Linked DNA regions of Homo sapiens. Each later gene encodes a partner of the first gene's protein in a complex. Each region holds a gene or a part of one and is shown in the gene's direction. Other genes may lie near its edges.

Region 1 (3,756 bases):
AACTGAAAAATTTTTATTTTAAAATGTTAAAAATAATATTTTCTAGGAAAAATAACTTTTCAAAAGAATGAAAGAGTGGCATTTTATGTTTTTGTACATCTGTTTAATGTCTGGCTTAAGAGAAAACAGCTTGATTACCATTTGCTTCTGCATTCAGTCTTTTTGTGTTGTTGTTGTTGTTACTGTTGTTGTTACTGTTGTTTTGAGACAGATTCTCACTCTGTTGCCCAGGCTAGAGTGCAGTGGCACAATCTCTGCTCACTGCAACCACTGTCTCCCAGGTTCAAGCAATTCTTCTGCCTCAGTCTCTACAGTAGCTGGGATTATAGGCGTGTGCCACCATACCTGGCTAATTTTTGTCTTTTTAATAGAGACGGGGTTTTGCCATGTTGGCCAGGCTGGTCTCGAACTCCTGACCTCAGGTGATCTGACCGCCTCGGCCTCCCAGAGTGCTGGGATTACAGGCGTGAGCTACCGTGCCTGGCCGCATTCAGTCTTTTGCAATGTATTGTTTTGTTTAAAATCTATGAAGGGCCTGATGCAGTAGCTTATGCCTGTAATCCCTGCCCTTTGGGAGGCCGAGGCAGGTGGATCACTTGAGCTCAGGAGTTCAAGACCAGCCTGGGTGACAGAGTGAGACTGTCTCAAGAAGAAATTAGCCAGGCGCTGAGGCACGCTCGTGTAATCCCAGCCACTTGGGAGGCTGAGGTGGAAGCCTGAACTCAGGAGGTCAGTGCTGCAGTGAGCTATTTTCATGCCACTGCATTCCATCCTAGGTGACAGAATGAGATCCTCTCTCAAAATAATAAGTATATGAAGAAAACCGAGCCTCACATAAAAAGAATATTTTTAAAGTCTTTTTAGATAATTGTGTATATTCTCTTTTTGATACCATACAATACCAAAACTCTACATAAGTTGTAGTTTCCTAAAGATTAGTTGTAATGTTTAATGTAGGTCTGAAACCAGGTTAATTAACTTGGGTCTTGTATGTATAGTTTTGTAACATGCATTTACCGCTTGTAAATATTGGTTCCCTGAATTATGTCTTCCAAATGTTGACGTTTTATTGAACACTGTCATTAAATCATGCTCATTAATATAAATATCATCTCATCAGAAAAATTACTTAGGCCTTGGTAAACTATCAAGTTCACAGTAGTAGATGTGAATTTTCCAGAATTCTAGTTCCCACTTGAAATCATAACGTTTATCATTGGCGATAAATGCTCTCAGTTTTCCTTGAAGTGACAAGCTCACCTTGTTCATGTTTGAAAACATCTCTATCAAATACCTAAGTCTGAGTTAGCCATATTTGTTCTTTTAAAAAGTGGTGTTCTCTGGGAGGTGAAGCTTGCAGTAAGCCGAGATCGTGCTGCTGCACTCCAGCCTGGGCGACAGAGCGAGACTGTCTCAAAAAAAAAAAAAAAATGTGGGGTTCTATGAAAAAGGAGCTTGGAGCGTGTTTAGCTCACAACTCAGATACACAAATGCTTTTCCTTCAGAAAACCATTGAACTTCAGTTGTAGCCATATTTATGTATATCTTCCATTTTGTCACAGATATTAGAAAGACATGTACTTGAGAGTTAACACAGTATTTATTGTTTTATCAAGGACATTATTAAGTGAAACCATTTGCCTTGTTTGTTTCTGCTGGTGTGTGGTTGTGAGGAATACAGTGACTAATATATGTTGCTTCCTTGATTAGTACTAAGGTGCCATCAATTTTACCCACCTTTGCTTTCCTTTGCTTTTGCAATTAGTACAAATGTCAACACAGTGAAAAGAGCAGATAAATAGTGTTGCTATTATTATGAAAATAGTTTCTACCTCGGAGACTCCGAAAAAGGTCTCAGGAAACCCCAAAGTCCTTGAACCACACTGTGAGAATCTGTTTTTTCTTGTCATATAGAATCTTAACTCTTATGTCAGTTTTTCATATGTGATTCTGTGATGATTACTCCTTAATCTGATAGTATCGAGCTCAGGCTATTTTCTTTTTTTTTTTTTTTTTTTTTTTTTTGGAGACAGCGTTTTACTCTGTTGCCTAGACTGGAGTGTTGTGGTACAATCATGGCTCAATGCAACCTTGACCTCCTGGGCTCAGGTGATCCTCTCACCTCAGCCACCCAAGTAACTGGGACTATAGGTGTATGCTACCATGTGTGGCTAAATTTTACATTTTCTTAGAGACAAGGGCTCACTATATTGTCCAAGATGGTCACAAACTCCTGAGCTCATGTGATCCTCTCACCTTGGCCTCCCAAAGTGTTGGGATTACAGGCATGAGCCACTATGTCTGGCCTAGAGCTATTTTCTATGCTACAAGAAGTTTCCTTTTTCTCCTCTTTAACAATTTCTCAATGGTTTAATCAACACAACATTAATCATTGATTGCTTTCCTATCCTTCTATTGTACTTTACCTTATTTTATTTGTTAATCAGATTTTGTTTCCAAAAAGAGATAATGCTGTTGACACTGGATTTTGATTAATAGATTTAACTATTTTTGGAGTAGTATAGGAAAACTCTAAGGCATTTGTATATTACTACTTTTTGGATTTTGGTTTTAAAACTCCTCGTTTACTTTTGGGAATTGCATTTTTTTTTTTATTGGCTGCTTGAATAACTTAACATCTTTTCACTTTCCTGGATAGATTTATCCAGAACCTGTTTCAGTCCTCATACTAATAATTCGATATACAGATTACATCCTTGCTACCTGTGTCTGGTTTCTGAGCTGAGATTGTGAGGGATATTATGTTTTTCTAATACATTTGAGACCTGGAGATCATGTAACAAGTAGTAAGAGCTTGGACAGTGAGAGTTACCTTTTCTCCAAACGGTGCTATCAAAGAATTTATCCACATGGATTAAGGTTCTGATAATAGTTGTTAATGGTAGTATCTCACATAGCAAGGATATGTGTATGCATTCACGATTTCTTATAGAGAATCTTCTCTGAGAAATGTCTTTGATCCACCAACTTCAAGTTCCTGGAGTGACCTAATTTTGCTGTTTCCTAGTGTGCCTTTAGAAGGGTACGTTGTTGGAGCAATCTAGGTTATCCTGTGGTTTCTTTGCAGAGAGCTCAAGAGTACCATATTATACAAAGCAGCCACTTTTTCTTAATTTTTGTGTAGGTGACAGTGACCCCTAGACTGGAGGTTCCTGGGAGGTAAAGGACCTGTCGTTCTAGTCTCTGCAAGAAAAATATTGCCTAAAGTTATCACAAACATTTACACAATTGGATACCTTAAGGTTATGTTATGGAATTTTACCTTAATGTTTCTGCTTATTGCAGAAAATAAAGTAACAAAGGTAGAAATAAAAGAATATAAAAGATGCTCAATCCCAGAAATAAATATTAATTCTGTAATGCGCATTTTAACATTCTTGATGTTAGGTAATTTTATGGTTTTCAATTTTAGAATTTAGCAAAACTTCCTTGAGAAAGCACTTAAAAATTAAATTTATTGTTTACTGTAATCAACTCATTTTCATCAGGTGATCTCTGCTTTTAATATACATGGTTTAATTGATTATCAGAATAATAGCAGCATATTCTTAGTTTCATAATTAACATACTTATCATTTATTGTATACTTATAGGCATCAGTGATAATATGAGCCTGACATTGTTGAAAGTAGAGGCCAGAAGTAATGAATATAAACCGTATAGTTCATTCATAAATTCAGGATGTATAATTGGTAATAAAGTTATACATTTTTTTTATGGGCCAGGCGTGGTGGC
Region 2 (3,756 bases), on another chromosome or scaffold:
GATCTCCTCCCCACAACTTTTTGGTCACAGATAGTTTTATTATAGCATATATTGCCTAGCATAGATTTGTGCATCATTAATGAAGATTACTTCTGCCAATTTTTTTTAATGGATGAATAGAACTTTGCAGTGTAGAAGTTGTTTTTTGTTGCTTGTGACATATGAATGTCAGGATAAATATATTTGCAAGAATAACATTTATTACTAGTTTAGGAATCAGACTGTAGTTAGAGTATTCAATTTAGGCTGCGAGATAAAGTTTTTGTAATATTCCAGAAGGTGGAAATCAGGGTGACTAATTCTGATTTCTTTGTAGACATTTGTGTGGTAGCACAGTAGATACTGTAGTTTTATGACAAAAGGGGAACTTTTCCCCACATTTTATACTATTTAGTTTGGTTTCATGGTTATTACAGAAAAAGAGAAACAGATTGGCTTGTATTAAATGTAGTTTTCTTTTAGGATGATGAAGATAATCTTGTGTTCTAATCTTGGCAACAACCATACAGTTTATATATATGGGTTAAATACGTTGTTATCCCCATAGTATCTAATATCATTTTATCAGTTTTTCTGTTAGCTTAGATGACAGCTGTTTAAGTTTCTAGGAAGTTTGGGGTGAGAATGTATTATTTAAGATGTGTTTTGGTCAGAAATTGGTCTATAATGGTATGTTTACTATTTTCGAAGACCAATTCTATTTAATTATTTCTTTCTACCAGGAAATATTTGATGATGCGTCACCTGGAAAGCAAAAGGAAATCCAAGAACCAGATCCTACCTATGAAGAAAAAATGGTATGTTCTAGGCTTGTGAATAGAGTCTATAAGGAAAACTTTTTATCAGGTGATTAAATGTACTAAACATCTATCTTAGTCCATTTTGTGTTACAACAATACCACAGACTGGGTAATTTATAAAGAAACGAAATTTATTTCTTAGAGTTCTGGAGGCTGGCAAGTCCAAGGTCAAGGCCAGCATTTGTTGAGGGCCTTCTTGCAGTGTCATTATATGGAGGAAGGCCAAGAGAAGAGAGCAAGACAGGACTGAACTTTCTTTTATAACAAGCTCACTGGTGATAACCTCCTCCTGAGATACTGACAGTAATCTTTTCCTAATCACCTCTTATTAGGCCCTACCTCCCAACACTGTTGCGTTGGGGATTAAATTACAACATGGGAGATTTGGAGGGGGACACAGTCAAACCATAGCAATGTCTGTTTAATTTTTGTAATTATGGCACAGATATCCATTTGAAATATGTGTAATATGGAATACTATAACTTCCATATCTTATGTGTCTATGTAAGCCAAATGGAAGTATTATATGAATTAACATAATATGATGTCATTATCTAGTTATGTTAACAACACCTTTAAAAATTTAACCTTGGAAGCGAGGTGAAGACCAGAATAGTTACTCAGTGTATGTTTATTCTGCACTTGACTAGCATTGTACTCTGCTAGTTACCAAAAAAAGAAATATGCTCCTTGTTCACAGCATTTTTATATTATAGATGGGGTCTTTACAAAAAGAACATGACATTATATTGGAGTCATTCAAGTCCCAGTTCACGTTCCGTATCTTCTAAGAAACTTCTCAAAACTATGACTTGACTTAAACAGTACCTACACAGAGCTTTAAATTTAAATTCAGTTTTAGTAATAGTAGTAGTGGCTAACAGTGAATGTTTACTCCGTATCTGACCCTGTTAGGAATGCTTTATATGGATTAAACTCATTTAATTGTATTGAAATCTCAAAAAGTTAAAATAACAATGTATTAAATAAGAATACCACTACACAGTGTGCTCCTGTAGGGTAAAAACAGTGTCTTAATCTTTCTTTCTGTCTTCAGTACCCAGAACAGTATCTGGCACATAGCAGATCTTACATATTTTTTAAAACATACTTTTTTCTTGTCCTTTGACTTTCTCTTCCAAATCAGTAAATATTTTTGAATGTCTTAAATAGCTTCAAAATCTTAAAATTATGGTATGTATTTTATGTGCATGTATAATATGCACAATACATATAACACTATGTAAATTATAAATGATATATCTTTAGGTTTGATTTGTTATATATTTTACATATGTATATATGTAACTGTCACCTTTTTTGCTATCAAACTTAGAGAAAAAATAGATTTGCCGCTCTGTTTTTTTAAAGTGAATACTACTTTGAATACAGTCTACATATTTTAATACTGCTTTAACCCTTTATAGTTTAGATTCTGACACACTCTGCTGGTGAATCTAATTGCCAATTCTGAGGCTTAGTTTTAGTTTCTTGATTTGTGCTTGACATTGTTGACCATTCCTCAAAAATCTTGACTTGCCTTGAAAGACATTTTTTCCCGTGATAATATCCTCTTTGCTTTTTTATTCCTTTGTCCTTCCTTATTAAAATTTGAACATTTCTTCCTAGACAGTTTGATTCTTACTGGTTTTTACCTGGTATCTTTAAACTGAATATTTTCAAATACTTAACCTCTAGCCCAGAAGCCTGTAATCCGTATTTTCATTTACTTTAAAATCCTATTCATACCTCTTACTTGAGAATATCCAAAACTGAATTCATAATTTTTACTTAGCATACCTTAGTGTTACCTCAATGAATGAAAGTTCCTCTTCAGGTATACTCAAGATGTTCATGACAGTACTGCATACTTGTAAACAATAAGTTTACTTACGAGTTTATTCTCTTTTCCATATCACCCTAGTTTAGTATTTTTCTATTATTGCATGGATTATTTTGTGCTTCTGTATTTGCCTCCTTTCTTATGATCTGGCCCCTTCCAAGTTTCTTAACATTTTTGCAAAGTGTTATTTATAACACAAATTTGACTGTGAAATGGAGGTTTTTCAGTGGCTCTCTACAATGCTTTTCATTTTCTTAGTGGCCTTTATTGGAACTCTTTTCGTTTCTTCCAGGTTTTTCAGTCTCCCAGCATTATTTCCTTTTTTGACATCATGATCTTCACCTGCACAGTTTTCTTCTAAGCAAGAAGCTCCCTTGTCATCTGCTAGTTCTAACCATAGATAAGTTCACTATCCACTCCTCGTTCTTGAACCCAGAATGCTGAGTACTACTTCAGAAAACTAAATACTAGTGCTGATTGGTGCCAGTATAAGTTTATGGTTTTTATTTTCTTGGACCTTGAGTATTTATTGCCTATCAGTCTCATTTAGCCATTCTAAAATGTCCCCACTCTGATCAGTCTTTCTTCTCCATTTCTACCATGCCCTCATTTCCAATCTTCCTCCACAAAGAATTGCAGGCCTGTCTTTATTTTCTTTCTCTTTTCAAACATATGTATAGCCTCTATTATCCTACCTCATTTCTTCCTGTTTCAGAGAAAGAAGCTAGTCCAAAGCTATTCACTTTAATTTCCGTTTGATTTTATAATTGATTTCTTTCAGGTTCCTAATCATACTCTCTTGTTTCTGCTTTTTAGGTTCTGTTGGTTTTTCTCCCTCAAGACATTTCAGTTTTAACCTTTTCATTCTTTCAAGCAGTTTATCTTGATTCCAAACATAATTACAATAATTATTTTTTCAGTCCAAACATCTTGTAGATGCGTGCTCTTGGCTTTTGTTTCATTATCTATAAATTAAGAAATGTAATTATGTAAAATATGCATTCACATATGTATCTTGTTCAGCACTTTAAAAACAGTCTGTAATCTTGGAAAACATAAATAACAGAGGCTTGTCATCTGTAGGACATTACTGGGGTTCTAGCATGTTCACA

Evidence for each region. Proteins that work in one complex are often made in the same cells at the same time.
Region 2: DEK (region 1) and SMARCA5 share a complex: the UniProt entries of both Homo sapiens proteins name them as parts of the B-WICH complex.

Annotation. Positions count from the first base shown.
Region 1 is NC_000006.12:18,250,779-18,254,534, reverse strand, and holds part of DEK (protein DEK), read left to right. Parts: intron 1-3,756. UniProt on the Homo sapiens protein: Involved in chromatin organization.
Region 2 is NC_000004.12:143,516,633-143,520,388, forward strand, and holds part of SMARCA5 (SWI/SNF-related matrix-associated actin-dependent regulator of chromatin subfamily A member 5), read left to right. Parts: intron 1-722; coding exon 723-797; intron 798-3,756. UniProt on the Homo sapiens protein: ATPase that possesses intrinsic ATP-dependent nucleosome-remodeling activity.